3 separate regions of the Homo sapiens genome follow, and regions 1 and 3 are each linked to region 2. The links come from fine-mapping of genetic effects on gene expression. A gene starts in region 2. Each other region holds a variant in brackets. All regions are shown on one strand. Distances are from middle to middle.

What was found.
Region 1: its variant is fine-mapped to the expression of STX16 in whole blood (TOPMed, PIP 0.91).
Region 3: its variant is fine-mapped to the expression of STX16 in whole blood (INTERVAL, PIP 0.97).

Annotation. Positions count from the first base shown.
Region 1 is chr20:58,679,453-58,690,245 of GRCh38, forward strand. The region is part of intron 8 of STX16-NPEPL1 (STX16-NPEPL1 readthrough (NMD candidate)); the gene reads left to right. It overlaps STX16 (syntaxin 16), which reads left to right. Exons shown (of 9, transcript NM_001001433.3): 9 at 1-74. It also overlaps a transcript of NPEPL1 not described here. Among named protein-coding and RNA genes, the nearest start is that of NPEPL1, 8.0 kb to the right of the region's middle. The variant T/C (reference allele first, on the strand shown) is at 6,828.
Region 2 is chr20:58,644,653-58,655,445 of GRCh38, forward strand. It overlaps STX16 (syntaxin 16), which reads left to right and starts at 6,631. Exons shown (of 9, transcript NM_001001433.3): 1 at 6,631-7,486. The coding sequence starts at 7,355. It overlaps STX16-NPEPL1 (STX16-NPEPL1 readthrough (NMD candidate)), which reads left to right and starts at 6,601. Exons shown (of 23, transcript NR_037945.1): 1 at 6,601-7,486. It overlaps LOC107985410 (a long non-coding RNA gene), which reads right to left and starts at 4,983. Exons shown (of 3, transcript XR_005647058.2): 1 at 4,337-4,983. RefSeq lists silencers at 2,841-3,135, 5,534-5,893 and enhancers at 3,823-4,360, 7,390-7,659, 7,497-8,000.
Region 3 is chr20:58,621,840-58,632,632 of GRCh38, forward strand. No RefSeq gene overlaps it. Among named protein-coding and RNA genes, the nearest start is that of LINC01711, 7.5 kb to the right of the region's middle. RefSeq lists an enhancer at 2,074-2,368. The variant A/G (reference allele first, on the strand shown) is at 5,752.

The sequences.
Region 1 (10,793 bases), 35 kb after region 2:
TACTGGAAACTTTTTGTACAATAAAGCAATCACGCAGATTAAAGAACATCCTGCAATCCTAGTATTAATTTTAACAATGGGTTCATGTTTTCTTCCAGTGCATTTGTGTTAGGGGAGGGCTTGGCCAGTTTTGTGATCCTCTGGGCCCCTGACTCTGTTTTGTGCCTGAGGCCTTTGCCTCAGTGTCCGAAAGTAGATCTATCTAATGGATGCTTTCAAAGGGACAATCTATTTACTATCTGATATACAAAAAGAACAACTGCCTAAAAGGCAGATAAGTATTTTTCTTATGAAAATATATGCTTTATATACATACCAAGAAACATTTGGAAATCTCCAAATAAAACTGTGATGTGCCTTGTTGAGAAGCAATTCTTACACACAGGCTGTAAGAGACTTGACTTTCTAAATGATTTTGTTTCCTACTCTGTTACACCAAAAACTTGAGAGACAAGTGTCTGCCAGTTTAACTCAAAGCCAAGACTATGTTTCCCCTTGATTGTGCCTGTCCTGGGGTCCTCCGAGGAGGACCTTTGTCCTGAAACTTGACTTTGATGCATTTGTTTTGCTGGTGGGAGATGTGGACCTGAGTGATGGTAGGGGTATGTGGTTTCATCACCAGAACCTATACAAACAAAAAATAGCAGCTGTCATGCCAGGTCTCTTTGGCACCCTTGGCGTTTGGTCCTGAGGTGTTGCGGCGACTCAACAGCAGAACCCTTCAGAGCCTGTCAACAAACCACACAAAAGAAACAACCTCCTCCTCTTGCACTCTCACCGTGTTTTTTGTTAAGAAATTACATTTCCCCAACTCGCATGTTGGCCACTGGCTCTGTCCAAGAATCAAATCCACTCTCGAGGGAGAGACGTTTGCCATAGGGTTCAAGAATATTCTGACCGGCAATGCTATTTAATAACATTGAAGAAATCCTCCATCCCGAAGGGGACCACATAAAGGCGGCAACACCTCTTTGGTGACCTCTTGGGTTATGTTCTCAGCTGAGTCTTTGGTGGCCCAGTCTTGAACCAGCACTACAAGAGTATGCAGACGCAGTCTGCAGAAGCATTGCTGTCAGTGGAGAGCTGCAGGATGCCACCAATGACTTGGAGGCATGACTTGCCAAGAGGCCTGGAAGTGGGGAGCCACTGGGGTGTCCCTTTGAATGCTCACTTTGACAGCAGGTAAACAGGCTGGATATGGATTTCCTCTGTGAAATTTAGCAACCATCCTATAAGAAGTCTGATCCTGATCCAACGTTTGAGCAATCTAGAATCCTTCCTGGTCCGTCTGCCATAGTTACGTAGCCACAACAAAATTTACCTAGCCTAGCACCATTTCTATCTAAATCTAATAGGATAGCATGTCATTCTACATGGGGCCTTAATTGTGATCAGCATCCCTTACTCTAGTCAAGCCATGTGGGACCATGTGGAGAGATCTTTTCACAGAAGGGATGTCCCTAGTTGGGTGTAGAGAAGACAGCTCATCACAAAGACTTCCTGCTTCTCTGTGGTTCTAATTCATCGATTAGTTATGGTAAGTTTCCATTCCTTCTAAGATTTAGGTAGGCAGGCCTGGTTCATCCAACATGAACTACATTTCAGAACCTAGCACTGTGCATGCACATAAATGCATGCCTAGAATTGTATATCTTGGCGTATATTAGCTCTTAAAAACTAATTTTCTTGGCCGGGTGCAGTGGCTCATGCCTATAATCCCAGCACTTTGGGAGGCCAAGGCAGGTGGATCGCTTGAGGTCAGGAGTTTGAGACCAGCCTGGCCAACATAGTGAAACCCCGTCTCTACTAAAATATAAAAATTAGCTGGGTGTGGTGGCACACGCCTGTAAACCCAGCTACCAGGGAGGCTGAGGCAGGAGAATTGCTTGAACCCAGGAGGCAGAGGTTGCAGTAAGCCGAGATTGTGCCACTGCACTCTAGCCTGGGCAACAGAGCGAGACTCCGTCTAAAAAAAAAAAAAAGCCGGGCGTGGTGGCTCACACCTGTAATCCCAGCACTTTGGGAGGCCGAGGCAGGCAGATCACGAGGTCAGGAGATCAAGCCATCCTGGCTAATGCGGTGAAATCCCATCTCTACTAAAAATACAAAAAATTAGCAGGCCGTTATGGCAGGCACCTGTAGTCCCAGCTGCTCGGGAGGCTGAGGCAGGAGAATGGCGTGAACCCTGGAGGCGGAGCTTGCAGTGAGCCAAGATTGCACCACTGCACTCCAGCCTGGGCAACAGAGCAAGACTCCGTCTCAAAAAAAAAAAAAACACTAATTTTCTTGACCACCCAGATGCCACTTCTAACCTTGCTGCCTGATGGTTTTAATTCTGTTTTGAAAACAACCTCCTCCCAAGTGATGGGTATTAGAAGGAACTAATGAGAACCCTGGGTGCAAGCAGAGACTTTTAGCACGTATGAAAGTGCTTCTGATTTAGGACTCGGAGTTAGATGGTGGGTGTCAGCTGCGTGTGTCTTGTCCCCAACTCCATGCCACCCTCGGGCAGACGTCATGGTACCAGTCTATGGCCAGGCTTTCTTACTACACAAAGAGACATTCCATGGAGTCAAATGGCAGAGACTTGTGTACAATTATCTGGTCAGTTGAGGCAAAAGAAAATAATCATTTGTCCAATTGTCCAAATTAGCTCTGTGGATTGTCCTGAATGCTCGGGGTAACTGTGTGGTTCTCCACTTCAGTTCCGTAACCTGGCTAAGATGGACCATTTAAATGAGGCTCCATTCAACACAATGCACATTTAAATGAGGCTCAGTTGCAAGAGACCACTGGGCTTAGCGTTTTCAATTTGTCAACTATAATTCTATAATTGCTTTTAGCTAATCATCCAAATGATTACATGTTGTAATGGAGGCAGAAGACCCTCGTATGCATCATTTGGTCTCTTTTTCTCAGAGGAAGTGCTGAAGGATCAAATGTTTTGTGTGTCTCTGTGTGTGTGTGTGTGTGTGTGTGTCCGTGTTTTAACTTGGTGTTCTGACGCACAACACCATAATAGACCTCCATTTTCATCAACGGTGGGGGAATGAGAACAACGCCCCCCATCCCAACATCCCCCTTTTCCAGAGGGGGAAACTGAGACCCAAGTTTCCCTCTTGCCAAGGCCACAGGACTAGAACTAGAATCGTCAGTTTTCTGATTTCCAGATCAGGACTATTTCTGCTTATGCCATTTTAATTTTTCATTTCTTTCCATAAAATTAAATGACCTTCTTCAAGAAAGATTTAATGGTCAAGATGCGATTTGGTAAAAAGCTTCCTCAAGGATTTTTTTCTTATTACAAAGATGAGACTGGCTGAGGCTGAGAGATTTGCAAGCAGTGGTATGTCATTATCCCCAGCTCAGTTTTTTGTGTAATTGGTGTGAAGAGATTGCTGCTGATGAATCAGCCTGCTGCTCAACAGAAAATAATGATTCTTTTGTGACGTGAGTCAGTGTACGTACGTGTACGTTTGTGGTTGTTTATGAAAGGTATGTGTGTACATAAAATGCTTATCAAGATGGATAATGTCATTTTAAAGTGGTAAATAATAAAAAATAGTCCTGAGCAAAACTGATTTTACAATTGCCTGAGAATGCAGCACTTCATTTTAACACTATGCAATGGCTAGAAATTGATTTTTTTTTTTTAAATCCAATTAAGCCTCAAGGTTGGTTATCCATTTAAAAGGTCGGATGAGTTAAACAATGACAGTACCTTCAGTTCGTGCTAATAAATTTGCACAGAACTTCAGCACTTACATCGTGTGCCTCACAGAGGCATACATTTTGTATGTGCACAACACTGAACTACCAAAGTCCCAGCAGTGGTACAGATACACCAGCAGACCCTGGACCCCAACTGGGGGAGTCCCTGAGCTGACCGCCGGCCCTATCACCTCTTCCACTTAGATCCCCGAAGCACCCCCCACCCCAGAGTGCTGAGTCCTTCCATCTACCTGGCCCCCTTTTCTGTGGCCCCAAGAGCACTGGGAGATGAAAAGTTGCCTCTCATTTAAAAGGGGGGAAAAAGATGTATTCACTACTTGGTTTTGTGTGCTGCTGAGTTTATAATGTAACAAATAAATCCTGTTTTAAAAATAGTACTTTATAGTGTGTATTTACTGTGTATTCATAGTGCATTAAGAAAAAGACTTCGGCCGGGCACAGTGGCTCATGCCTGTAATCCCAGCACTTTGGGAGGCAGAGGCAGGCGGATCACGAGGTCAGGAGATCGAGACCATCCTGGCTAACGTGGTGAAACCCTGTCTCTACTAAAAATACAAAAAATTAGCCAGGCATGGTGGCGGGCGCCTGTAGTCCCAGCTACTAAGGAGGCTGAGGCAGGAGAATGGCGTGAACCAGGGAGGTGGAGATTGCAACACTGCACTCCAGCCTGGGCGACAGAGCCAGACTCCGTCTCCAAAAAAAAAAAAAAAAAAAAAAAGAAAAGAAAGAAAAAGACTTCGGCTGGGTGCAATGGCTCACACCTGTAATCCCAGCACTTTGGGAGGCTGAGATGGGCAGATCACCTGAGGTCAGGAGTTCGAGACCAGCCTTCCCAACATGGTGAAACCCCATCCCTACTAAAAATACACGCCCGGCTAATTTTTGTATTTTTAGTAGAGATGGAGTTTCACCATGTTGGTCAGGCTAATTTTGAACTCCTGACCTCAGGTGATCCACCAGCCTCGGCCTCCCAAAGTGCTGGGATTACAGGCGTGAGCCACCACGCCAGGTCAATTCTTTTTACTTTTTAAAAGATCTACATTCAGATACTACAGATAGATGTATAATAAACACAAGGGTGTTTCTGGAAAAAAGGTGACTCAGGTTTTTGAAGATTGAATCATTTTCAATGCTCTAGAGAAACATACTATTTAAAAGGATCCTATAAGTGAAGGTTTTCCTAACAAAAGATTCCTTGATCAAAATAAACATTTAGCTCCTAATTTTGCTTTTCTATAAGTCTCCATTTTCTTGTACTGAGTTTGCTTAAAGGAATGCGGAACCCCATTTGGTCTGTTAATTATTTCTCTTTTCCTTCTCGCAGCCTCCCTATCCAAAGGCTCCAGGTCTTCAACATGTCCTTGAAAACTTTTGCAACTACAAAAATAATTTTGCTGGTGTTCAGAAGTAAATAGAGTTTAGTTCCTGAGACATGAAGGTTATTGCTGTATTACACTGTGCCCTTCCTGGGAGGATAATTTAGGCTGCTAGAATGGCAAGGGACCTCGGAGAGCAACTAGTTCAGCCCGCTCATTTTTTTTTTCTTTCTTTCTTTTTGAGATGGAGTCTTGCTCTGTCGTCCAGGCTGGAGTGCAATGGCATGATCTCGGCTCACTGCAACCTCCGTCCCCCAGGTTCAAGCGATTCTCCTGCCCCAACCTCCCAAGTAGCTGGGACTACAGGCATGTGCCACCATGCCTGGCTTTTCGTATTTGTAGTAGAGACAGGGTTTCTCTGTGTTGGTCAGGCTGGTTTTGAACTTCCGACCTCAGGTGATCTGCCCGCTTCAGCCTCCCAAAGTGCTGGGATTACAGGCGTGAGCCACCATGCCTGGCCCCAGCCCCCTCATTTTATCGAGAGGTCCTAAAAACTGATGCTAGAAGAGACGTTTTTTGTTGTTAATAAATGATTCTGCTGGTACATTTTTATTAACACATTCTCTCATCCCACTGATCCCAGAAAGTATAGACACAGTACATGCAGATGAGGCTACCAAATGTGCTTGTCAAGCAAAGTGCAAAAGATGGCATGTAGTATGCTACCTTTTGTTTAAGATCCATGAATAATCTTATTTTTTTCAAATAGAATCATGAAAGATAAAAGCTAATACAAATGGTTACCTATGGGGGTAAAAAAAGGTTACCTGTGGGGGTAAAAAATGCTACCTATGAAGGATGACTGAGAAAAGGGGGGAAGGGCAGGATGGGGAGATCTTTGAACATTTCCTTTTTATAGGTGTGACTTGAATGATACAAAATGTTATACGTCGTCAAAAAAGAAAATGTAGAAAAAAGGAAAATGGCAAACCTTTCTGTGAAGCACAGATTTATGAACCTAAATGTACATCAAATCAGTAAGCTGCACAAAAATCAAGTATATGTGGAATATATCCCTGGAATATACTCTTAGGAACAAAAAGTTAAAACATCTTGAACTCTGTGTTGTGGGTTTGTTGTCGGGAGCGGAGGCTATTGGTGAGTGTTGTGGGAAACAGAGTGAGAAACCCTAGGAGGGGCTGGGAACCAGGGTCCTCACTGTGGCAGAGGGAGATGCGATTATGGAAGATGGGCAGGTGAGGAAAAGCCCTGTCACGTGGATTTGAATGGGAGGAATCAGTATCAACTCATGATGTTAAAGAAAACCTGATCTTAACAGATCCAAGAGGACCAGGAGCAATGACGCCCAAGTGGCAGGGAGCATGCCCAGCACAAGAGCTTGGTCTCTAACTCTGAAGCTGTTGGCTCTAACCAACCATTCCCCTCACTGAATGGAGCTAGGGTTTCTCGGAGAAATGGCTGACTCTGGATTTGGGTCAAGGAAGGAACAAAGTGAGCCTGTGATCATCTTACTGTTCCAGGAAGGACAAAGTCCTTGAAAATGGATAAGAACACATCAAAAAGGAGCCTGCCTGATGCAGCTCTCATTGGCCTAAGTGGGGACACTTGGGAGCAGTGACGTTTGATGAGATGCACACACGTATGGGCTGTGGCAGGGCTGGCTTCAAGGATGTGCAGCCACCATAGCCACATGGGCCCTGTGCCTAGTTTAGTGCTCAGCTGTTGCCATCTTGAAATTGCTTTTTGAAAGAGAGGCGC[T/C]GCGTTTTCGTTTTGCACTGGACTCCACAAATCATGCTGCCAGCCCTGGGGAGGGGGAGGTCTTTGCTGAAGAACACCAGGTAGTAAGTGTAGAAGGGAGGATAGAGCTGGAAAGTCACTCAACCAATACTTGATTCAGGCAGAAATCATCACTGGATACCAAAGACATTCAGGAATAGATGGTTGAGACCCAGACGGTTCTTAGTCTCAAAGTGTCACTCCATGGATTCTAAAGAGGAAATTATAATTCAATTAATTATAAAAGGGGGAAATGCACTTTTACCATGAAGAGATCTGGCAGACCCCACTTGCCCAATGATGGGGGACACTTAGTTTATGTGCCTCCTGATGAGGTTCGATGGGAACCATAACCCGTATTTTTGCCAAAAACGTTCAACCCAAATCTAAGAAAACAGACGAATCCAGATGGTGAGAGCTTCTGTAGGATATACCAGTGCATGAAAGACAAGGGTAAGGACTGTTCTGGATTAAAGGAGGCCAGAGAGGCTTCACAGCCAAACGCAATGCCTTATTTGGATTCTGGATTTAAAAAGAAAAAGCCATGAAGGACAAGGGGACGATTAAAGTTTCATTGCAGACTGTATACTGGATAATAGTATTGTTTCAATGTTAAATTTCATGGGTATGATCAGCATATGATCATGATTATGTTGGCTGGTGTCCTTGTTCTTTTTTTTTTTTTTTATACTTTAAGTTTTAGGGTACATGCGCACATTGTGCAGGTTAGTTACATATGTATACATGTGCCATGCTGGTGCGCTGCACCCACTAACTCGTCATCTAGCATTAGGTATATCTCCCAATGCTATCCCTCCCCCCTCCCGCCACCCCACAACCGTCCCCAGAGTGTGATATTCCCCTTCCTGTGTCCGTGTGATCTCATTGTTCAATTCCCACCTATGAGTGAGAATATGCGGTGTTTGGTTTTTTGTTCTTGCGATAGTTTACTGAGAATGATGATTTCCAATTTCATCCATGTCCCTACAAAGGACATGAACTCATCATTTTTTATGGCTGCATAGTATTCCATGGTGTATATGTGCCACATTTTCTTAATCCAGTCTATCATTGTTGGACATTTGGGTTGGTTCCAAGTCTTTGCTATTGTGAATAATGGCGCCATAAACATACGTGTGCATGTGTCTTTATAGCAGCATGATTTATAGTCCTTTGGGTATATACCCAGTAATGGGATGGCTGGGTCAAATGGTATTTCCAGTTCCAGATCCCTGAGGAATCGCCACACTGACTTCCACAATGGTTGAACTAGTTTACAGTCCCACCAACAGTGTAAAAGTGTTCCTATTTCTCCACATCCTCTCCAGCACCTGTTGTTTCCTGACTTTTTAATGATTGCCATTCTAACTGGTGTGAGATGGTATCTCATTGTGGTTTTGATTTGCATTTCTCTGATGGCCAGTGATGATGAGCATTTTTTCATGCGTTTTTTGGCTGCATAAATGTCTTCTTTTGAGAAGTGTCTGTTCATGTCCTTCACCCACTTTTTGATGGGGTTGTTTGTTTTTTTCTTGTAAATTTGTTTGAGTTCATTGTAGATTCTGGATATTAGCCCTTTGTCGGATGAGTAGGTTGCGAAAATTTTCTCCCATTTTGTAGGTTGCCTGTTCACTCTGATGGTAGTTTAATTCCTTTTTTTTTTTTTTTTTTTTTTCTGAGATGGAGTTTCACTCCTGTTGCCCAGGCTGGAGTGCAATGGCGCAATCTCGGCTCACTGCAACCTGCGCCTCCCAGGTTCAAGCGATTCTTCTGTCTCAGCCTCCCGAGTAGCTGGGATTACAGGTGCATGCCACCACGCCTGGCTGATTTTTGTGTTTTTAGTAGAGACGGGTTTTTGCCATGTTGGCCAGGCTGGTCTTGAACTCCTGACCTCAGGAGATCTGCCCGTCTTGGCCTCCCAAAGTGCTGGGATTACAGGCGTGAGCCACCACGCCCGGCTGGTGTCCTTGTTCTTAAGAGATACACAATGAGGTAGGGGTGTATACAACTTACTTTAAATGGTACAGGGAAAAATATGTGTACATACATACATATACATATACACATATACATATACATATATACATACACACACATACACATATACGCATGTTTGTGTATATAGAGGCATACCTCACTTTACTGTGGCGGTCTGGAACTGAACCCAGAATATCTCCGAGGTGTGCCTGTATGTGTGTATATATGTGTGTGTGTGTGTCTATGTGTGTGTGTGTCTATGTGTGTGTTTGTGTGTATGTGTGTGTCTGTGTGTGTATACATGTGTGTATGTGCGTATATATGTGTATGTGTGTGTGTGGTGTGTGTGGTGTGTGTGTGTGTGGTGTGTGTGTATGTGTGTGTGGTGTGTGCGTGTATGTGTGTGTGGTGTGTGTGTGGTGTGTGTGTGTGTGTATCTGTATATATATGTATGAATCTAGGTGAAGGGTATACAAGTGTTCATTATACTAGTTTTTCATCTTTTCCAAAAGTTAATGAACTTTTCAAAAAAGTTTCTAGAGAAATGTGTTTTCATGGCAACGAGTTCTCTTTCCTCCCTTCAGGGAACATTTAGTGCAAATCTAGGTGGCATGTCTGGTGCCAGTTGCAAAAGGCAACGGAGGCCCTCCCTGCTGTGCAGGCACTCAGGTTGCAGCAAGGGACAGCACAAACATCCACAACGCAGGGCAGCATTCAAGGCGGTCGTGCAGCTGTCACAGTTTTCACTGGTTGTGGGCTCACTTCTCAGCCAGCTGCTCAGGGAGGTCCTTGGAGCTGAGCCTGCCTCTGCTTCCTCTGGGCTCACGAGCAGGTCATTCTGAAGCAGGAAGGAGCCCTTCCTTGCTTCCACTTCAGGCCTGCCTGAGGCACTTCCACTGGTCTCCAGTTACTTGCAAGGTCAAGTACAACCTGCAAGGTCAGTATATATTTTATGCGCACTTTATATCTGGCACAGGAGCTTTTCTTTTTCTTTCTTTTTTTTTTGTAGAGACAGAGTCTCTGTCCTGCAGATTGGAGTGCAGTGGCGTGATCTCGGCTCACTGCAACTTCCGCTTCCCAGGTTCAAGTGATTCTCATGCCTCAGCCTCCCGAGTAGCTGGGATTACAGGCATGCACCACCATGCCCAGCTTATTTTTGTAGTTTTAGTAGAGATGGGTTTTCACCATGTTGGCCAGGCTGGTCTCAAACTCCTGGCCTCAAGTGATCCACCTGCCTCAGCCTCCCAAAGTGTTGGGATTACAGGCCTGAGCCACGGGGCCTGGTTCCACATGAGCTTTTGACAGTGCCAGAATGAACCATGTCCTTTACTACTTCAGGCCTTTGCATGAACAATTCCTTGGTCAGGGATCAGACTGCCTGACACACTTTAACCGATCCCTCCAGGCCCAACTCAAAAGTCTCATCGTAGTCCAAGGGGCCTTCCCTAACTCAATCTTCTCCCAGTGACTGGATCTCTGGATTTTACTGTTCTACTTGCTTCCCCTTCCTCCTCCTGGCCACACACACATATGCGTGCACATGCACAAACACACACACACACACACACGCTATTGCGTCCCCAAAGCCTCACGGGTCCTGTAGCTTTTCAGAACTGATGTTCAACAAATGTATGTCAAATGAATGAATGAATGAAAATGCTAGAAAATACGAAGCAGATGCACCGAGGAAATGTTTCTTTGAAGTATCGGATATAATGGAATCTGAGAGCCTCGTGGCAATCAGCTGAGTCTAAGCAGGCATTAGGTTTTATAGGGGTGAAGTCTGACATGAAATTAACATATAAATGTAGATTTCAAACACCTAGAGCCATCTTACAAGATAGGATTTCAGAAATGTGTCCTAGAATGTGAACTGTACCAAAAAACATCCTAGTAAGTTCTAGGAGCTTTATTCTGATTTGTCCCAGAAGTTTTTAATCTTTTCTTCAACTTTGGAGCAAAGTCTGAACA
Region 2 (10,793 bases):
AGCCCAGGAGTTCGAGACCAGCCTGGGCAACATGGTGAAACCCCATCTCTACAAAAAGTATAAAAAATTATGGCTGAGTGTGGTAGCTTATGCCTGTAATCCCAGCACTTTGGGAGGCCAAGGTGGGTTGATTCTTTAAGCCCAGGAATTCGAGACCAGCCTGGACCCCATCTCTACTAAAAATATAAAACTTAGCAGGGTACAGTGGCACATGTCCATGGTCTCAGCTACTTGGGAGGCTGAAGTGGGAGAATCATTTGAGGTTGCAGTGAGCTATGATAGCGCCACTGTACTCTAGCCAGGGTGACAGAGTGAGACCCTGTCTCAAAAAAAAAAAAAAAAGTATAAAAATTAGCCAGGCATGGTGGTACCTGCCTGTAGTCCCAACTACTTGGGAGGCTAAGGTGGGAGAATCACCTGAGTCTGGGAGGTTGAGGCTTCAGCGAGCTGTGATTGTGTCGCCACATTCTAGCTTGGGAGACAGAGTAAGACCCTGGCTCAAAAAAAAAAAAAAAAAAATGAATTCAGGGATAAGGCTATAACTCATGACAGGCCAATGAGAGTCCATTCTAGGACTTTTGAAACCACTGGAAAAGAGAAATTTCAATCTATTGGGGTTGCTGTCCTGTGAGATAACAGGGCAGAGCTTCCAGAGAGCAATCTGCCACCTCCTGGGGTTCACTGGCTTGAGAATGAAACCAGCACAGGGGAAGAAAGAGCTGAGAGATAGAAACTCCTTGTTGATATGTTTCCTCCTCTGGATCCAGCTACGCATAGATGTTTGGGCCAACACATTTGCTTTGAAGCTTAAGTCCATTTGATTTGGGTTCTGTCCCTTGTGACCAAAGGAGTCTTGAGCCATGCATGGCCACATAGCTAATAAGGGGCTGCTGGTTGCACAGGCAGCATCTGGAGAAGGCTGGAGTCCAGCCCTGCACTTGCACATCACACAAATTACCACGAGCAGGTCAGTGGTCATGGCCATGGGAAAAAAAACTAGAAACGAGTGAGTTGGCTATGTTTCAATACCTGCTAGCGGAAAAACACAATGATTTCCTTTATGTTTTTCAGGGTTTGAGTCATCCAGGTCAGTCCTGGCTTGGCACATTAACTTATTGTTCCTGCCAAGGGAGATGGTTAAGATGGGAGGGTTGATTTATTTGAGTACACATGTGTCCACATCATCCTGGAAAAAAAGTAAAATGCAGATATGCTTTGCTGGCATGTGTTGTGACCCAAGAGGCCTCTTCTTGGCCTCAAAGACCAAAAGCCACGATGTTAGACATTGTTTCAGTCTTGAACTTGACCAAGCATGGGCAGGCACCTGGTATGATGGTGACATAAGGGCCCTGGGAGAGGAGAGTCCTCTCCCCACACGGTGGACAGGGTAGGAGGATTACTTTCTATTGAATAGTCTGAGACAAGAGTGGTGAGAAGGAGCCAGTTATTTGAAGAACCTAGGAAGGAGAGCAAAGCAGGTGCTAAGGAGGTGTGAGGAATGGTGGGAAGGCTAGTGTGGCTGAAAAGGGGTGAGCGAGGGGGACAGAGAACTGCCCTAATCTCTCCACCCATTTTGAGTCTTGACTGTCTGGTATTCTCTAGCACTTAATATAGTTAATCTCACCTTTTGTGCATTAATCCATCCAGTCATCCATTCCGCAAACATTTATCACACCTGACAGTGTAGGGGGTGCTGTCTTCAATGAAGGGTTCACCAAGCAGAAGGGGCAAGACACATCCCCCGCCACTACCCCCACCAGGCAGAGAAAGGCCTGTGAGCCAAGTCCTGGAAAGAAAAAAGCTCACCATTTAGGTGGGGCCTGTTGGGCAGGGCTTTGAATGCCCAGGGGGCACTCCGCCATGTGGAAAGTGTAGAAAACCTAAATGCAGAACTCCAGGAAATACTGATCTATGGGAAAAAAATTGTACTGAAATCCATGATTCTGGAATAAATCAGATCTAGTCTTATACTATATTCTAATACAGCCAAGTGGTGGCAGGGACTGAAGGTTTAAGAGAAAGCGAGAAGAGAAACACTTAAGATGGAGACTACTCCATTAATTAGCTTCATTTTTTTTTTTCTGACAACCAAGAAAAGTCCATCATTAGTTAATATTAGTGATGCCCAGCTTGGTTCAACTTAGAGCACCTGTTTTCTGCTGAGCGTCATTTGAGATCGGCTGGCATGGGCCAGAGGGAGCTGTTTCAGGGCCTCAATCAGGCAGTGACATGATCAGATTTATGCTTTGGAAAGGTCACTGTGGCTGCAGGATGAGGAGGGAAGAGACGGGTGGTTGTTAGCAGGCTGCTGGGAAAATGTACACGATGAGAACCAGAATTTGGGTAGAGACAGTGGAGATGCAAATTCCCTGAAGGCAAGAGTTTTGCTGTTTCATTCTTTCAGCAGTGCCTGGCAAGAGATAGGCACAGCCACTGGTAGATTTTTAGAAATGCCTACTGTATTGAATTGTCTGGTATTAAAAGCTACGGGACTCCAGACAAAACAAAAGTGTTGCCTCTCTCCAGAGTCTCCCTTCTTGGGAGAGGCATCATAGCTGAAGACAGACCCAGATAGGGAGTTTTCTGTTGTTGGAAATACTCAAGGTTTTGAGGAACTATTTGGGGACACAGAACACACAACTCCTGTTACCCGAACCTGGCCCGAATCTGTCTGTCAGATCTGTGCAGACGAGACATATGTTAGGCCTGGGGGCTTTTGCTGCTTGATAAGCAAACAACCATCTGTCTTTCTATAGGTGGGAGAAAGACCAATGTTAAAAGGTGTCTTTGAGATGGTTTAGCCCCCTCTTCCACATGAGTGTGCACTGCAGACACATCTGGATTCCCAAGGTCCAGAACAAGAAGCTCGGAAACGTGCTTAGATTTCCAAGTGTTCAGTTCTCAATACCATGCCATTCTCTTTGGAGTTTATGATGCCTTCCAGGGAGAGCAGAGCCCACGTGAGCTTTCCAACAGTAAGACTACTGCTGTAATAAATCATATTGCCCATTTGTGGCGCACTTACTCTATGCTGAGGTTGTATAAGGGCTTACATGAGCCCTATCTCATTTAAATTGTTTTCACCAAAGGGTGTGTGTCCCACTGCTGACCTGTTGAGCTAACCATCCCCTCTCAGTACTTGAAAACCTGCACCTGCCCAAGCCATGGCCTGGCTTCAATGGGGCTTCCTCCTGCACTGAATGAGATGACAAGAAAACAATGAAACACTTGTCCCCAAAAGTGACTTATTGGATTCGTTGGCAGAATGTTAGAAAGTGGGTATGAAGCCCAAGAAACAGGACACGGAGCCTCACCAAGCCCGAGGAGTATTACCGAATCCTAGCCCAGGCCAAGAATGAGTCACAATGAAAGCTTTTAAAATGTAAAACCATCAACCTAGATTTCAATTCCAAGGAAACACATACTTGGCCATGGGGGAATGCTTTAAAAAAAAAAAAAAATCAAGCTTAAGTCACTTGACAGGAAAATAAAACAGCCAAGGAACATTCAAATATAATGATTTACATCCTTCCCCAACTCCCTTCCAGTGTGGGTCAGGGCGAACATGGACCATGGACGTGACTGGAGCCAGGGGTGCATGCCCTCTCTGGGCTCCCTCTTGGTTAACACTATTTCAGGCACACAATCCCATACCTAAACACAGCCTGCTTAGAGCTGCACCGTGCTGCCTTTGGGGCCTGGTCAGAGCTGCACGGTGCTGCCTTTGGGGCCTGGTCAGAGCTGCACGGTGCTGCCTTTGGGGCCTGGTCAGAGCTGCACGGTGCTGCCTTTGGGGCCTGGTCAGAGCTGCACGGTGCTGCCTTTGGGGCCTGGTCAGAGCTGCACGGTGCTGCCTTTGGGGCCTGGTCAGAGCTGCACGGTGCTGCCTTTGGGGCCTGGTCAGAGCTGCACCGTGCTGCCTTTGGGGCCTGGTCAGAGCTGCACGGTGCTGCCTTTGGGGCCTGGTCAGAGCTGCACGGTGCTGCCTTTGGGCTGCTATGCCAACTTCTTGGATTTTCCTGACCTCCCCGCTGTTAGGCTCTTGGGTTGCTTGGGGTGGCTGTTTTGGGAATACCAGGATTTTTCTTCCATTATTTGTGTGCAAGCAGTGTTCATTTCGCTCAAAGAAATGGAAGCTTGATTGATCTCCTAAATGTAAGAATGAGATTGTCCTGTAATAAATATTTAAGACTGACCAGGAAAGGCGACCACCATCTGCTGAAACACAAGACCAGGAATTACTTTGCTAAGCTTCCTGAACGGAGGGAATGAATGAATAACCATCCTATATAATATTTGCTCAGCACCTGGTAGTTTACAAAGAGTTTTCACTTACCTTATTTGATCTTCACAATAACCCCAGAGAAGTAGACAGGGCGCGGATTACGAGGATTACGAAAAACCCACATTTTTTTCTTTTTTTCTTAACAGATAAGGGCTCTAAAGGCTTAAAGTCACTCGAGGGAGGTCAGAGAGTTTGGGGACTAAATCTCGAGTCTCTCATTAATTCATGCACATATTTAAAAAATATTTATCCGGAGCCTGTTCCAAGCCAGATGAGATGGCAGTGGGTACAAAGATGAATAAAACACTGTCCCTGCGTAGGAAGAAGATCACGTTCTAGCCTGGGGGAGAGCGCCAGGAAAAGTAAACAGGTCCCCCCCTGCTTTGTGAGGTGATGAGTGCTGGGGAGATAGGAAGAGAGTGGGGACCATGTTTCTAATCTGATTCTCCTACCGACGACCAGCTCAGTTGTTATTTACAAATACCTGTCCCCTAAAGGGGGGAGCGGGGTTGGGGGGGCTTGGCCGTGCTGCTGGGGTCAGAGCTCGCAGGGGGGTTCTGCCGCAGTGTGGGGACAAACTCTCCCTTATTGGGCAAATATTTCCCGGGGCGCTACGCTAAGCACACGGGCTCCCCGAATTTCCCTCCCCAGGGCCTCTCTGTCTTTGGATGGCCTGTCAGCAAGTCCCTGCAGCCTCCAGCCCGGCCCGCGCGGCGACCCAGTCCCCTGTCGCCCGAATCTTCCACCGCTGCGAAGCGTCCCCGGGCGAGCGCCCTGCTCTCCGCGCTGCGCGGAAGCCAGAGCCGGTCCTCACAGTGAACTCGCCCAGCCCTGCTCGCGGCTCTCTCGATTTTATGTGGGTTTCGTTGGATGCATTTTGTTATTTGCCTCAATGGATGTTTCACATTAATTTTTAGTTGCACAACGAACGCGCGGGAACATTCTCCGTGAGAGAAAAAGCACGGGTGGGGGGCGGTTACCGGTGCTTCCCCCGGTCGCCTGGGGGTCCCGCACGCGCCCCGCGGGTGCCGCTGTCTGGCTGGGGTCCCTGGGTGAGCCGCGGGCACCGGCTTCGCGTCTCCCCGGGCGCGACTCCGCTTTGCAAGCGCTCAGCACACGGGAAACCCTCGGAAAACACACACGTGTGTAAAGTTTGTTCCACGCAGAAACAAAGGACGCGTGGGGGCCGCTTCTGGGGCCTCGGTCCTTTGTTGGAACCCCGCACCGCAGCCCGGCCCGCAGCCTCGCCCCGCAAGGGGAAGCCGGCCCTGCACAGGCCCGGGGCCCGGAAGGCGCCGCCGCACAGCTCTGCGCCCCCGACCCGCTCCGGCCGCGCGCTGGGCCAGGCCCTTGGCCTCAAGCCTCCCGGGCGGCTCCGGGCCGGACCCGGGTCTCCGTCGCGGGACGCCAGCCTGTTTGTGGGTGCCGTGCTCGGGCCCGGGCGGCCCCTGCCCGACGCGGCCCCACGGAGCCCCTGCACGAACCCCGCCGACCTGGCCCGGGGCGGCAAGTCGAGGTGCTTAGGGCGCCCTGGGCCCGGCCAACCGTGGAAAACCCGGCCCGGGGCACGGGGGGGCGCGGGGGTCGCAGGGCCAGGGCCCAGGCAGGGAACAGAGATTTTTTTCGCGGGGAGGGGGGTGGGAGGTGTCAAAGTTTTCGGGGAACTTTTCCACTTGAGATTCCACGACCCTGCAGTGCCCCCTACAGAAAGCGGCAGCTGGGGAGGGCGGGCGCCCCCGACGACCCCCGACTGCCAGCGGCGGCGCGGCCAGGCTGCCTGGAGTTCTTGTTCCTTTTTTTTTTTTTTTTTTCCTTTTATTTCCTCGTGGTTGTTTGTCGGATACATCTTTTTCCAGAGTGGGAAAAAAAAAAAAAAAAGCGAGCGCCGCCGCCTGCAGTAGAGCGTGCTCGGCCTGCAGAGGCAGTCGTCTCCAACTTTTCCTCTCCCGCTCCAACTCCCCGCGCCCAAAACTTCAGTTCTTGGGGAGCCCAAATTTGCCTGCCGCGCAACTTCCACTCTAATTCAGCGACCAAGGGCCCTGGCAGCGGTTTGCAGCCTGGGGGCCACGCTCCCCAGGCTCAGGCCTGCTCGTTGGCCTGCTCCTAGTGCCTGGACCCAGTTGGGGGAGGCGAAACAGGGCGCCCGAGGAGCACCCCGGGAGAGGGCGGAGCACTCCCGTGCCCCGGGGCAGGAGTGCAGGGAGCTCCCGCGCCCGGAACGTTGCGAGCAAGGCTTGCGAGCGTCGCAGGGGGGCACTCGCGAGGGACGGACAGGAAGAGGGCCAGGGGGGAACGCCAGAACCCGGGACCACAGCACGGAAACGGTCCGGGGCTGAGCTGCAGTCAGATCCGGGGATGGAGGGAGCCGGAGAAGAGGAGTGAGAAGGCCGGGGAGGCAGGCCCTGCTGTCTTCCTGCAGGCCGGCAGCCTGCTGGCAGTGGAGGACCAGGCCGTCCAGGAAAGGAAGGGGTCAGGAGGTCGGGCAGGGCCTCAGCAGGTTCAGACAAGTCCCCAGAAGGGAGCTGCAGGCGCCCTCGAGTCCAGGCCCCAAGCCTGGCTCCGGTTGTCCAAAGAGGGCCTAGGCCAGGCCTCTGGTGCGGAAACTGAGTCACAGCCAGACCTCAGGGCACGGCCTAGACGCTTACGAGCCAAAGTTAGGGGTAGAGAGCAGAGACCTCCGGGGGGTCTCAGGGAGTAGGGGGCTTCAGGGCCTCCCAGTCTAGAGCCGGATTGGCGAGTTAGACGCTTGTAGATCCAAGGTTGGATTGGGGTGGGGTCTCTGGGACGTTGGATCGCTACGCAAGGATTGGGGGGATTCAAGTGCTTAGAGATCGAAGTCTGCCCTGGGTAGGGGGAGTCAGACAATTGGAAAGCCTAGGTAGTTATTTGGGGAGGGGTCTCTACGCCTTGGCGAAGCGCACAGCTGCATCTTTTTGGCTTGAGGCCTGAGGCCTTGTCGAGAAGCTTCCGTGAAAGGGTGGGCCAGCCGGGCCACGAGAAAGAAAGTGAATAAATCAGGAATATAAGTGGGCGGGGGGCCCCTGAGAGGGGGGTCGCAAAGGGTGAGACATGGCCACCAGGCGTTTAACCGACGCTTTCTTGTTGTTGCGGAATAATTCCATCCAAAACCGGCAGCTGTTAGCCGAGCAAGTGAGTAGTCACATCACCTCCAGCCCTCTGCATTCACGTAGCATTGCTGCGGTGAGTCTCCTGGCGGCCTCTCCGACACACGGACCGTGTGCACTGCGGCTCTGCCTGTTTGTCTGTCTCTGTCTGTCTCTCTGTTTAAAAAGAGAAGATAAGAATAATAAGACTAAGAATAATAAGATCTCTTGGCTAGAGTCAGGGGGCATCTGTAGCCCTGGATGAGGAAGAAGCGGTGCTGTGAGGCCGCAGCTCCACCTCTGCCCGGTCTTCTCCTCACTTCCGCAGCACCCCCCCCCCCGCACCCCCCGCCTTGGCGTCACTGCGCTACAGGCCGCCTGTAATTTACATATGTTTTAACGCTAACATTGGGAAGCATTGGGCCTTTCTGAAGCCTTTTTGTTTCGTTTTGTTTGAAGCTCCCCTCCCCCCAGTAATGAGCCTCAGTTTGGTCCTAAGGGCTGGGTCGCCGGATCGTAGACCCAAATCCTTGCAAAATGAACGACTCCCTCCCCTCAAAGAGGAGGGAGTTGTGTTGTTGTTTTGTTTTGTTTTGTTTTTCCGCCCGTTTTCTTTTAACGGCCCCGCAGCCCTCTGTGTGGCCTTGTTCCCTGTGAATAATTGCCTCACTGTTCTTCCTGGGGGCTTGCGTTTGTGAGACTCAAGGTGCTAGCCTCTTCACTTTCCATTTCCCAGACAGGAAATTAAGCTTTCCTCTCCATTCGAACTTTTTAAAAAAAGCCTGAGGAGGTATATGTGAAAATTAACCCCGTAAAATAGCACTTTTTTTTTTTAATTAACCACAACCTTTAGTTAGCCTAGCAGTAGCGTTTTTTAAGGGTGGTCCTGGAAAAATTACTGTTTGGGGTTTGTTTTTAATGGGGGCTACTTTTCCCTTTCTGAGCCTCAGTTTACTGCTCTGTTAAATAAGGGGCGAGTCTGGATGATCTATACCAGACAGTGATCGTTAGCTCTGTAATGTCTTCAATTGAAAAGTGAAGTTATGAAACTGGCTGTAGTTCAGGCTACCTGCTGTAGGCAGACTAGGTTGGAATAGAAGCAGCGTTGGAACAGGCGGGAAATAGCCATCCCAGGACCACATTCTTGGGGGTTATACTTGATATTAGGCAATTTTGGAACATTCATTTCACCTCTTAGGGACTGTATTGCCAGTTTATTTTTTTCTTTATGGCTTTATCTAAATGCTTCAGGAAAATTTTGCCATATGTCATGATTATCATGTCTACAAAGACAGTTTCTCCTTTTTGTAAGTCACAGGTGGAGAATGTCTTTGGCCATATAACTGATAGAAAAGTCATTTTAAGCCGTGTGAGCGGTTTCAGGAATAAAAGCATGTAAACTCAGGTCAAACAGCCTAGAACTAGGGACAGAGTGTGTGTGAGATTTCAGTTAATTAAGAAGTTGAAGGGTTTTTTTTACATTTATAAACGGAAAGGAATTACATTATATTGAAATAAATGTAAAGATGTCTGGTAGCATAGAAACAGGCTAATTCTAGCGCTAATTTTGAAGAAGAAATAATCCAAGAAATCGAGTAGAAATTGGATGAATTCAATTCCTTAATGGAACTTCAGTAATGTTAAATAAGAACTGCATGTTCCTTAAATGACTTGATTTTGTGCTGCCTCAAAAACTACTGAAACTCATATTAAGATTTCTAAGGTATCAGTTTTAATTGAAAAACATATTGTTTATTTTTCAATTTTTAATCATTAAGGTTCAAAATACCCTGAACCTTTGGGTAACATGAGGGTTTTTTTTTTTTTCCCGATTAAGTCAGACAGTTTAAAAACCTAGTATCTGAGACGGGAAGCTTTTTAAAAGTGCATCTCTGAATCAGACCACTTTAGAAAATTATTTTCTAAGTTAGGCAATTTTAAAAAATATTTAAGCTAAGCAGAATAATTAAAAATGGATAGTTAACGTATACAGTTTGGAAAAATAGATATGTCAGGGTATATACAGATACATTTAGCTAACTCACAGTTTTTTGAAAATAGATTTCTAAACCCAACTAAAAATACATTTCTAAGAACGTTAAAAAATGTTTTCTAAATGTCATACCATTGAAAATGTTAATATTTATATTAGTCTGACCATTTAAAATCTTTCTCAGATCATTGAAAGCAGTCATATCATTTAAAATATCCTTATAGTCAATCCATACTATCTCAAAAATAGGTTTTGCAGTCTAACAAACATAGTTTGCCTGAATTCAAATTTAAAAATAAAACACAGATTTATATATTTTAATTGTGTTAAAAAATGGCATGTCATAAATTTCTGAAGTATTTAGGGTTGAAGTGTTACATCTTCACTTTGCTTACAGGTGATTCGTAACAAAATCTATTCTGCACACAGTACGGCGAAATGCTAACAAGACTAAATAGAGGTTATGATTTTTTCAACTTTTCTGGAAGTTGGAAAAGCTTTATAAACATTTTGAAGCAAAAGCCATGTTTAACACAATTTGTAAAATCTATTGAGTAACTCTTAGCAATGCTTTTCACTGCATATCTAGCTCACAAAAAATTTAAAGCCTTGTTTCTGACTTGTAAATTTCAAAGCCATGTAGCAAACCAAACAAAATCGTATCTGTCAAATTTTGAATATGGACTAGGTATTAGGTGACATTAAGGAATTAATTATAATACATTACATTTGCTAATTTTATTAGAGATGCCTACTGAAATGTTTAGTGGTGAAATGTCAAGGCATCTTACCTAAGTCCTTAAACCCCTCCAAAAATAGAGGAAGCAAATAAGGCAAATTGTTACTCATTGTTAAGTCTAGTGATGAGTATGTGTGCGACATTTTACCATTTTGTAGGCTTTTCTGCATGTTTGAAAATTTTTAAATAGAAACTTAAAGTAAGTATATTTGTTATAGTAAAGTAAAACAGTTAAAAAGAGGCAATTTGTAAATACATGTCTAACACTCAGGCAATTTGAAAGGAAGAAATTAAACCTAAGTTTAACTTAATTTAAAAAATAATAACCTGGAATTTTAAGTTTCCAATTAGAAGAAAAAGCTGTAGACTTTGATCTTGATGCATTTGATACCAACTAAAAATACACCTAAAATAACAGACTTTTTAAAAAAAAAATTGTAATCCTGAATTTTGACATCTTATTTCAGGAAAAAGCTGCAGAAATTAATTGCAGAGTAGTGTGTATCATACACCTCAAAGCAAAGCACACCTAAAGCCATGCCATTCAAAAAATTTAAACATGCATTTTTTGCATCCTAGTTTGAGGGAAAAAACTAGAATTTGGTTGTTGTAGTGGGGTTATTGTGTGTCCCTGTGCGTGCATACAGGGTTTTGCAGCATTCAGGCAAATAT
Region 3 (10,793 bases), 23 kb before region 2:
ATCTCCCCATTGCTCTCCACTCACAAGTTCAGCCCATCTTCCCCCAGTCCACCAGTCACCATCTCTCTGTCTTTTAGAGAGCAGGCCTCCCAGGCCCTGCTACTAAAGAAGATGGACTCTGTTGTTCCAACAGCCCTGCATCCCCTTCTTCCGGTGGCAGTGCGCTGGTTTTTCTTTAGGGACCACCCTTCCCCAGCTTTCAACCCATGATGTCTGCGTGAAGCTCATGACCCAGAGCTGATTAGAGCATTCTATCCTCTGGCCACTAGGGCTGACTTAGAGATGGGCACATGAGCCGGTGAGTTAAGAAGATGCGATCATGGCTTTGGGAAGGACTGTAGGGAAACAAGCTTTTTCTGTGGGAAGGCCGACTGGGGTGGCTGCAAGTCGGGACCCATCATGATCCCCCATACAGGGGGAGCCTGCCTAGGAATGAAGCCAATGTGGAGGAAACCAGAGCTCAGAGTAGAGAAAGACCTAGATTCCTGGTGGCAGCTCTGATGTTCCTGGGTCTCGCCATGCCTGAAATCCACCCTATCACCACAGATATGCACTTTCATGAGCCAGTAAAGTCCCAGTTTTTCCTGGGGCCACACTGAAGTGGATTTCTGCTCTTGACAACCAAAAGAGCATTGTCAGTACAAGAAGACACCCTTCTCCTCCACCCGGAGGTTAACAAAAAACCTCTGAGTGGTTCTTCCTGCTCAGTGCTGGTCACCTCTGGCTGAAGGCCACTCCCCAGCTCTCAGATCCCTGCTGACCACCCTCCCTGAACTGTTGGCAGCAGTAACGAGAAAGCTGAACGGTTGTTTATCATTGTCAACCCTTCCTCCACATTACCCCTATGGTTTTCTTCCCCCAAACCCAAGCCTTCTGTGCCTCCCACGCCCACCCCACTTGGTGCCAGCTCGGTGGCTCACTTGTTGTCTGGAGTGTAACTCATCTGTGTACCTGTGGTCTCTACTCCCAGCCTCTGGGTCTACAAAGAGGAGGATTGTGCAGCTCAGACTGAGCAGCTCAGACTGTGCATCCAGCAGACGGTTGTCGGAAGCACAGCTCAGTGACTGATCCTGACCACAGGGGCCAGAGCCAACGCTGTGTGCTGTGGTGTGTCCAGCTGCGATCAGCACTTCACATGGAGGCTCATCCTAGGAAGGGGCATTCACAGTCTCCACGTCTCACAGATGAGGAGTCAAGGCAGACAGAGCTGCACAGCCGCACGTCCGTGGTCACATCGCTGGTTGGCAGGGCTGGGGTAGGATGACCTTGGTCCCAAAACCCATGTGCTTAACCAGGAAGGAAAGGAGGAAGGCATGGGGAGAGGGAGAGAAGAAAAGAAGGAAGGAAGGAATGATGATGGAAGGAAGGAAAGAGGGAGGGGGCTGTGTAGGCATATGAGAATGTGTGTATAGTAAGTGTGGATGTAGATGTGGGTGTGTATGCACATGTGTGTGAATGTGGATGTGAACATGAGTGTGTATGAGGGTGCATGGAGGTGGGTGTGAACCCTGTGCATATGAGTGTGTGCATTCAAGGGTGTGTTTGTGAATGTGGATGTGAATGTGTGTATGAGTGTGTGTGATGTGTGTATATGGGTGGGTGTAAGTGTGTGTGAACTGTGTGTAATGCGTGTGCATTGGAGGGGGTGTGTGCACATGTGTATGAGTGTGTGAGATAGTGTGTGATGTGTGTATACTGTGTGCACGTGTGTGTGTATTGGAGGGTGTGTGTGCATGTGTGTATGTACCAGTGCGTGGGATAGTGTGTGAAGTGTGTGTGAACTGTGTGCATGAGTGTGTGCATTGGAGGGTGTGTGTGTGCACCTGTGTACAAGTGAGTGTGATAGTGTGTGTGAAGTGTGTGTGAACCATGCGCATGAGTATGTACATTGGAGGGTGTGTGTGCACATGTGTGTACGAGTGTGTGTGATAGCGTGTGATGTGTGTGTATACTGTGTGCACATGCATGTGTGCACTGGAAAGTGTGTGTGTGCACCTGTGTACGAGTGTGTGTGATAGCGTGTGATTGTGTGAACTGTGTGCACACACGTGTGTGCATTTGGGGGGTGTGTGCCCTCCCGTGCCCTCTGCCTGAGCGCCCCATCCTCCATGTACTCTGTCCTGCTGGGGTCTCATTAGTGTGCGGAGGGCGTCAGAGCTGGCCAGAGCCGCAGAGCCGCTGACTCACGCAGTGTCTGGAGTGAGTCACTGGCTGAGCCGGAGGCTGCGGGGGCCGCACTCAGCCGGAATCCCTGCTGGCCTCCTGTTCTCATCCGCCCGCTCTGAGTCACCCACACCTATGCTTCGGGCCGTTGTGGAATTAAACTCTCCTCTCCTTGAGGACGATGGGAAAGGGATTGAAGAGCCAGTGGACGCTGTGCCCAGCTGGAACCCGGGGGTCCGAGGGCAGACAGATGTGCTCCCAGCACTGCTCTTCTCAGAAGCTCCGTGGGCTGTGGGCCAGGCTCGAACCATTTCCAGTCCATGTCTCTGGGGTGTCCCCCAGATGCGGGCAGTGGGGCCTCTCTGGCCTTGCTTGAGGCCTGAGACTCTGGGAGGCTCTTCATGGGAAAAGTTGCCCCCATCCCCACCAGGGGCAGCCACCCTCCACAATGGGTTGCTCTTCTGGGCATGGTCCAGAAGCTTCTAGAGAGAAAATGGCAGCACCAACCCCCGACCTCATGAAGCTGACGGTCCAGGGGGAGGGCAGACAGCAAACAGAAACAGACAAATAAGAAGAAGCAGAGCCGACATCAAGGGGCCGTGCTTCATGTGTTTTCAGAGCTACTAGGACTGCCTGGAATGACCATCCACGCTTATTTGTGTACTGAATCAAACCCCATATGGTCAGAGCCATGCTGATCTTGCTGCGTCTCTGTGTTGAGTACAGGGCTTGCATACAGTAAGCACTCAGCAGATGCATGCTGAGTGAAGGCTCGTGTGAACAGCAAGGCAGAAAAGTAGGTGCAATGGTGCAAGAAAGAGCAACTGGGAGAGCTGCTGAAAGAGGGCATCTGAGCAGAGGGAGCAGCCCGAGCCGAGGCCCTGGGGCAGGAACGTGCTTCCATATTCTAGGGAGGTCGGCAGGGCTGGAGAGCAGGGGGAGGCGGTGAGAGGTGCGCTTGCAGAGATGAACCTGTAGGCTGTGATCGGGAGGGTGGATCTTGATTCTCTCCTCCTGATGGGTTGTTCTTCTAGATGCGGCCCAGAAGCTTCTAGAGGAAGATGTCATGGAGCACCAGCCCCAGACTCTTGTCCATCCTCAGAAAGCAGGAAGGTGTGATTCCACGTGCATGCCTGTTATCTGTCAGCTGGTGTTAACGTGCCCACCAGCAGGATGGAGGCCGGCTCGGAAAAGAAGAGCAAGTTTGGAAACATCCTTGAGGGCCAGGGAGCTGGGAAGAGCATGGTAAACGTGAGTCCTCTGCTCTTGGCTGAGCCCAGACCAGACTTACATCTCCATCATTAGGGGCCTCCTTTGGAGACGAGAGAGCAGGCAGAAAGCCTGCCCTGTTGAAAATGGACCTATGTTTTCTAGAAGAAATAGTAGCAGCATAATGACTCTTTAGTGTAGGTAAAAATGTGTTGCCAACACTTAGCAAGAGACTAGGCACCCAGTGACACGGGAGAGGTAGGTTTGGATGAGACACAGCTCAGAATTGTCCAGATCACAGATTGTTTGGGAAGTGGCCTAGTGGCTGTGAGCCTTAAGGGTGACAGCGGAGAGGGCCCCTAAGTTGCACGTCTCAGTGTGACCCAAGGCAGGCCCACCTTCCTGGGTGGCGTGACCTGCCCTGCCCTCCCCCTCTGCAGCCCGGCCTCACTGGCTTCCCCTCAGCCGGTGTCCCTGCATTTTTCTATCACTGCTGGGACACGGTTTCCCCACCCTTCCCACATGCTTTACAGATGTTGGCACCAGCCTGTATCCCTGGCCACCTGGCAGTCATTGGACCTATTAAACTGGAGTTCACATGCAACACAGTGGTGCTTGGCTGGGGTCCCTCCCTCCCTCTGCCTGCTCCACCGGACTGTGAGCTCTGAGTGCAGATGTACTTCCTGTCTCTGGAAACCCAGCACCTGGAACAGTATCTGGTGCAATGTACGAGGTCAATAAATAGCTGCCAAGATGGGGATAGGTGATCCCATTTTATGGATGAGGAAAGTGAGGCCATGTGGGCAGAGCCCTGTGTTCCTTCTCTCCCACTCAAGTGAGATGCCCAGGGTACTAATTTAAGGGGGCGCTCACCTTCAGAGTCCAACCCTGTGCCAGCACCCCTTGTGAGTGAGTGCCACCTTAAATATGATACCTTGCTTGCCTCGCCCTTGTCCCACCCCAGAGAGGAAGGAAGTGAAGGGCAGAGGGACAGTGGCCAGGCAGCCGCTAGCCCAGGGGGCTCTCCACCCAACTCCGGAAGTACCCAGGCTGCCCTAAAAGTCCTGAGATGAGCTCACTCTGTTCATCACATCCAGATGCCACTGTGCAGGGAGCAATCAAGTCAGCCATTTCCCCCAATAAGCTTGACTTCAGGGGACTGGAGGAGCTATTTGTAGCACTTTTAAAACCTTTTATAGATCAGTGTGTTACCACTGATGACAGTGGAAGAAATGCTGCTATTAGAGGCAGGAGCTTTAAGAGGTTTGGGTATTGGCTATTTCTGATTGGGAATGCCATGCTGGGAATCAATGCTCCATGCGTCCTTGCAGTGCTGCGTGAGGAGGCCACACGTTGGCTTGAGCCTCCCTGCCATGCACGCTCCCCTTGGCTTGGTACCCCCCTTGACTGAGAACTTGGGGTGATTTTCTCCTCTGTAGCCAAGCCAGAGCCCCCCAGGCTCCCAGCTCAAGGCTGACCGAAGCTTGGTGTTAGGTCCGGGTTTCTTGGGGGTGCATGAGCTGCTGGCGCGTCCGCAGTCGGAGGCTGCTTTGTCTCTCTCGCTGTGTCTTTTCCTCTTGACTCTCTTGTTCTCACTCCCTCCTGCTGTGTCTTTGCCCTTGTGTCTGCTCTCCCTCATCTTCTTTCTCTTTCTTTTGTTCTTTCTTCTCCTCCTTGCCTCTCTTTTTCTTCCTTTCCTTCCTCTTCACAGAGTCCAAGAAATTCTAAGGAAATGAGAAGTGTGGGCTCATAGGTTTCTCACCTTGACCATCCTGGCTCATGCTGAGAACTGGGCTCCTTCAAAAGGCCTGTTGCATCTGTGGAAGTGGCTCTTCTGGAAGAGTCTGTGGCACCCATGGACAACAGCAGAGTGCGGCCCTCTGAGACCATGAGACTCATGTGATTCCTAATTCCACTAAACACTATGGGTTGGGTGCCAGCTACCTGCCAGGGGGTCCTTTTCTTGGAAGGAAGCCAGACACAGCTCCAGGAGACTGTAGTGCAAGATGGAGGAGGGCAAAGCCAGTGGAGGAGCTGAAGAATGACACCCAGTTCCAGTTGAGTGAACCAAGATGGCTCCAGGTGGGGTTGGCCTTGGAGTGGGCCAGGACAATTGAGTGGGGGAGGTGCTCATGGGTATGGCAGTGGTGACGGGGCAGAGAAAGTCATTTGAGGAGGAGGTGAAAAAGGGAAGTGGATAAGAAGATTTAGTCTTGGGTTCAGATCTTGGTTTCACAGCTTTCTGGCCATGTGGCCTTGCTCAAGCCGCTTCCACTTCTGGACCCTGTTTTCTGGCAAGTGAAAGGGGACCTACCTTGCAAAGGAATGGCATAAGATGACGTTTGTTGTGTGTTTGTCCCCTGCCTGGCGTATCCTCAG[A/G]ATGTGGTTTGTGATATCTTTATGAACTTGCCAACAGAGGCAACCTGTGCATGCGACATCGCTGGGCGTGCAGAAAAGCCTAGAAAGCTAATCCTAGAAGCTTTTGCTAATGAGCACTTACTGTGTGCTAATGAGCACTTATATGACTTATATGTGCCAGGCAGCATTCTACAAGCCGTGGGTGTCCTGCCACTCAGTGCTCATGACAAGGACTCAATGGGAAGGATTCACCACCATGATGCCCACATGGCTGAAGAAGTGGATCCCCTGAAGGGAAAGCGGCCACCCAGCAGCCCCTGGAGCCGGCGTCCTACTGGGCATGTCAGCTCTGGAACCATGCTCCTCTCACTGTGGTTTTTGCTTCCCTATTGAAGGGCTTTGGGGGCCAGATGAGGGGTTTGGGCTCTATCCTGGCAGGAGGGGAGAAGGGGTGGGCAGCCTCTGAAAGTGTCTGTGGAGACCAGGTCCAGTCTCATTACTGGTGGCCAGTGGGGCAAAGGGCCTTGGGGGCTGTGGAGCAGCCACTATTGCTCCTGTTTCTAGGAACTTCTCTCTCTCTCCCCAACCTCATCACTGAGGAGCATCCTGTCTAGGGTTTCTGGAAGGCTCTCTTCTTACTTCCTTCCAGCCTCATGTCCTGATGGCGTTGTGTGCCAGGGGACTCACGGAATATTGTTTTCCTCTAACGACTCAGACAACTGATGAAATACTTGGTGCCTTGTTCTCCCTAAGACCTGTCCTCCCAAGGGCCTGCTTTCACATGGCTGCCAGGGCCTTCAATGCCGAGTCCGTGTTCCTCGGGGACCATCAACATGTGGAACTTATTTTTAATTTAAAAGAACAACAGACTCCCCAACCCCATTCCCCTCCCCCGCTTGCCTCCCACTGCTGCTCCTGGCTATGCGGTAAACACCAGGCTCTTGCTACCTCTCAGCTTTGCCATCGTGTCCAGCCTGGAAATTCTTGCTGGGCCATTTTCAGGGGCCAAGCCAAGGTCCTGGCCAGACCAAGGAAGCCCATAGGCACTTCAGCCTTCCCCATCTCTGCCCCCTGCATCCCTCTGACTTCTAGGCAAGCTGACCCATGCCACTCCCTTCTCTAGCAGCTGTCCTCTGCCTGTCCTTGGGAGGGCTGTGGGAAAGAACACCATGGCCCAAATCTTTAGATGGTTTGGACAAAAATTAGAGGGGATTCAGTCGAAGAGTACCTGCTGTCCCAGCAAGGCTGAAGCCTCCCAGAGTGTGAGGGTCTCATCCTGCAGACACCACCCCACTCATGGCTGCTCCTGTCCAGACCCTGGGATGCACTGTTTGACTTTGTCCTCATCTCAAGCCCACTTTACTTGTGGAGAAACTGAGACAAAGAGGCTGAGTAACTCGTCCGAAGTCCAGTGGTATAGGCCGGACTTGACCCGAATTCTGACCCCAAAGCCTGGCCCTTGACTGCCCCCTAGCACTGCACTGGCCAGGATTCCATGGTGGCCACTTTCTAATACTGCATCACAGCGCGGGGAGGGGCTCCAGGATCACTTACTTGCTCTTAACCCTGGCGACAAGGATGTGCTTTTGCAGATGTTGGTTTGTTCATGAGAAATTCGAGTCAGATTTGAGGGGGAAAGAGGAAAAGAGAGACACAGTGTGTGTAGAGCCATTATGTCTAATTCAGCCACCAACACACTTCTCTGTGGGCCTCTTCTGGCTCCAGAAGCCCCCTTCCCAGCTGTGATGTCACCAGCCAGCCTCTGCAGATGACAGCCCTGTGATTTATCATCAGCCACCTGCTTTCTCACTGCTGGGGACAGCCAGAGCCCAGAGCAGCCCCCACTGGGCTGGGCAGCAGCTGCCCCCTGCCCCATTGCCGCACTTCCAGGCCTATGAGCTTTTTGAGATTGTTTGCATTTTGGGAAATGCCAGTCATCTCTCCCAAATCTGCAGATAGCAGCATCTCACCATCCAGGGTTGGAGTTTCTAAACAGTCAGATAACCTTGCTCACAGAGAAACAGCCTGAACACCATTTACAGATAGCGACAGGATTTAATGAGATAAAGCCTTGGGCATCCATGAACCAATTTTTACGAGCCGTGATGAAATGGCTGTTTTCTTAATAGATACCCAAACAGAACACAATTCAGGGCTCTGAGAGCTTCAAAGGAACTTCTCAGCTCTAGCCTCTTGAAATTTCGGGCAAAATCCAAACACGTATCAGTCTTACCACCACCATGAAAATGATATGTTTTTGTAAAATTATGTGGGACCTATCTATCTGCCAAGGGAGAGATGGCCCAGATGCTTTTGGGACTCCAAGCCAGTGTCTTCAGCCTTTTCTCACATGATGTGAACACCAAATTCCAGTGCCACTTTCTAGAGGGGAGATTGCAGATGGAAGGCTTGTCCTGGAGAGGTTGAAACAGTGGGAAAGGAAATAAAGAGCATGCTCTCGCTCTTCCTCCAATTCCCTGAACTAGCTGGTTTCCTGAAGACTCCAGTGTGGGTAGACTGTGGCAAGTGGGTGACTGAATACTGACCTAGTCCTTAAAAAGAAAAAACGGTCAAAGGGCACCCTTCCAACCCCCACTGTGTGACAATGACCTCCTCAGAGAGCAGCCTTATGGGCCCCCTTTGAAAGGGCACAGTGACCCCCCTGGTGTCTGTCTGTTCTGCCCTGCTTGGAGAAACGGCTTCCTCCTCTGAGTTCCTAAAACATTTATCATCCCTATGATTTGCCAGGCAATTAGTCATGCCCTGCCTTGAGTATCTCTTCTATTGTTGTATCAAACGGCTGTTTAACCCTTATCAGCAGTGCAGTTTTCAATATCTTGTCTTTCTAACTCGATGTGAGCTTCCAGAGGGCTGTGCAAATGTCCACCCATGTCCGTCTCCTGTGCCCATGGTCCGTACACGTCTGGTCATCACCGTCAGAGGGTAGGACTGTGTCCTGCCTTTACAGGTAAAGTGTTTAGCATGCAAAATGCTTAGCACAGACACTGGCACCTCACAAGGGCCCAAGAAAGAGCCACTAGTGTTTACCTTGTTATTCATATTATTATCTGGTATACAAGAATAGCTAGTGAGCACCCTCCATGTGTGGGACACTGTGCCTGGTGCTGCTGAAGCCACTTGAAAATGGTACCTGTGAATTTCCCCAAAGCCATCTGGAATCAAGCTGGAAACTCTAGCTCTGTTTCCTACTGAAGGGAGACACGTATCCCCTCAGTGAGAAGTCTTTTCTTCAAAGGCCCTTGGTCGGTGTCAAGGATCCTTCGAGTCTAGGTGAAGTTGGTTGGTTTGGTCTCCAGAGCGGTGTGTGAATACAAATACAAATACCGTATTCACAGAATAGAGGATTTGTAGGTGGAGATCCTTGTCAACCTCTCCCCCAAAGTAGTCAGAGAAATGCCAGAAGAGAAGGAGCTCTCCAAAGGGGAGTGGGCTGGGCTGGGGGAGCTCAGAGCAAACCGTACCCATCATGGCTGGAACTCACTCGTGTCCCAGCTACTCCTCTCACTGGCTAAGGAATAAGGTGAGACAGTACAGAAGGTTGAGGTCGGAGAGCTGGGTGGATTTAGGGAGATACAGAGATGGAAACTTTGCTGTGGTCACGTCAAGTCAGACGATCTGATATAACTTCATCCACATCAGCCTCCACCTTCTTTATAAAAGCTCCCTCTGGTTCCTGTGTGGAGAATGTTTAGGGGTACAGGAGGGAACCCAGAAGTCCAGTGGGGGGCCTTCACAGTGGCCCAGATGACCTGGATTGGACCAGGGAGGTGGGGGTGGGCAGGGCAAAGGAGAGCAAGAAAAGCCAGGACCTTCTGAAGCCTTCCTCCTGGCCCCCTGGACCCCAGCTCAGGGTCTCTCCACTCCCTCCACTCCCCTTGTCCCCAGTCCTCCTCACCCTGTATCAGGGCTTCCTGTTAGCATGTTTTTGGCCTCATGGATGGGGGGCTCCATGAGGGCAGAGCCTTGGTTTACTTGTCCCTGCTCACTGACCCTAACAGGAAGAAAAGGAGGCCTGGTCTTGCGTACCCTCCAGGCTGAGCTCCTCACAGTCCCTGCATCTGAGGCCTGTGACAGTCAGGCCTGGAATGAGAGGAGAAGGCTGATCTCCCAGGCTGTCAATTGTTCCATTCTAACCCAAGCATTCTGACCCATGCTGCATTCCCGCCTGGGGTTTATGACTCTCTTTGAGTCCACTCTGCAGCCCACTTCCCAGCAAAGCCTGGTTTGAGGGCAGCTGAGACCAGCCCCAGGCCCCAGGAGAAAGGAGACCTACATCTCCCCAGAAGACCCCAGCCCCGTGGACAATGGATCCTCTGTCAGCCTGCAGCAAATGTTACAAGGCCCTAAAGACACTCTCTGGCCCTAGTGAGACTTTAAGAAACAAAACAAATTTTTAAAACACACATACACAGCAAAATACAAAGCGAAAATTGATGATGGTGATGGAGACGATAGAATCCAAGGTGACCTTATCTTCACCGGGCCCCAAAAGAAAAGAAATGCAATGTGTGGCCTCTCTAAAGCTATTCCGGAAAGTGAGGGGGCGCAAGTAGACCCCACTGAGAAGGAGCTCCATGCCAAGGAGGAGCAGGGCTGGAGGCGTGAGGACCACCAGGAGGACTTGAACAGCAGCAGTCTGGCTGCCCATGCTGGCCTCTCTTCTGGGGTCCTCTGGGCCTGCGGGAAGTCCTGGGTACCCAGGGACATCTGCCCATAGCCAGCCAACGCCCTGATGACCCTGGGAGTCCCTCCAAATTCCATGTCCACTGGAACCTCAGAGTGAGCTTATTTGGAAATAAGTTCTTTGCCGATGTCATTAGTAAAGGATCTTGAGGCGCAATCATCCTGGTTTTAGGGTAGGCCCTAAATGCAATGATGGTGTCCTTCTGAGAACAGAGGAGGACAGAAGACACATAGGGAAGAGGGCCATGTGAGGACAAAGCAGCGATGGGAGTGATGCGGCCAGAAGCCAGGGAATACCAGGAACCAGCACCATCCAGAAAAGGCCAGAAGGATCCTCACCTAGAGCTTTTGGAGGGAAC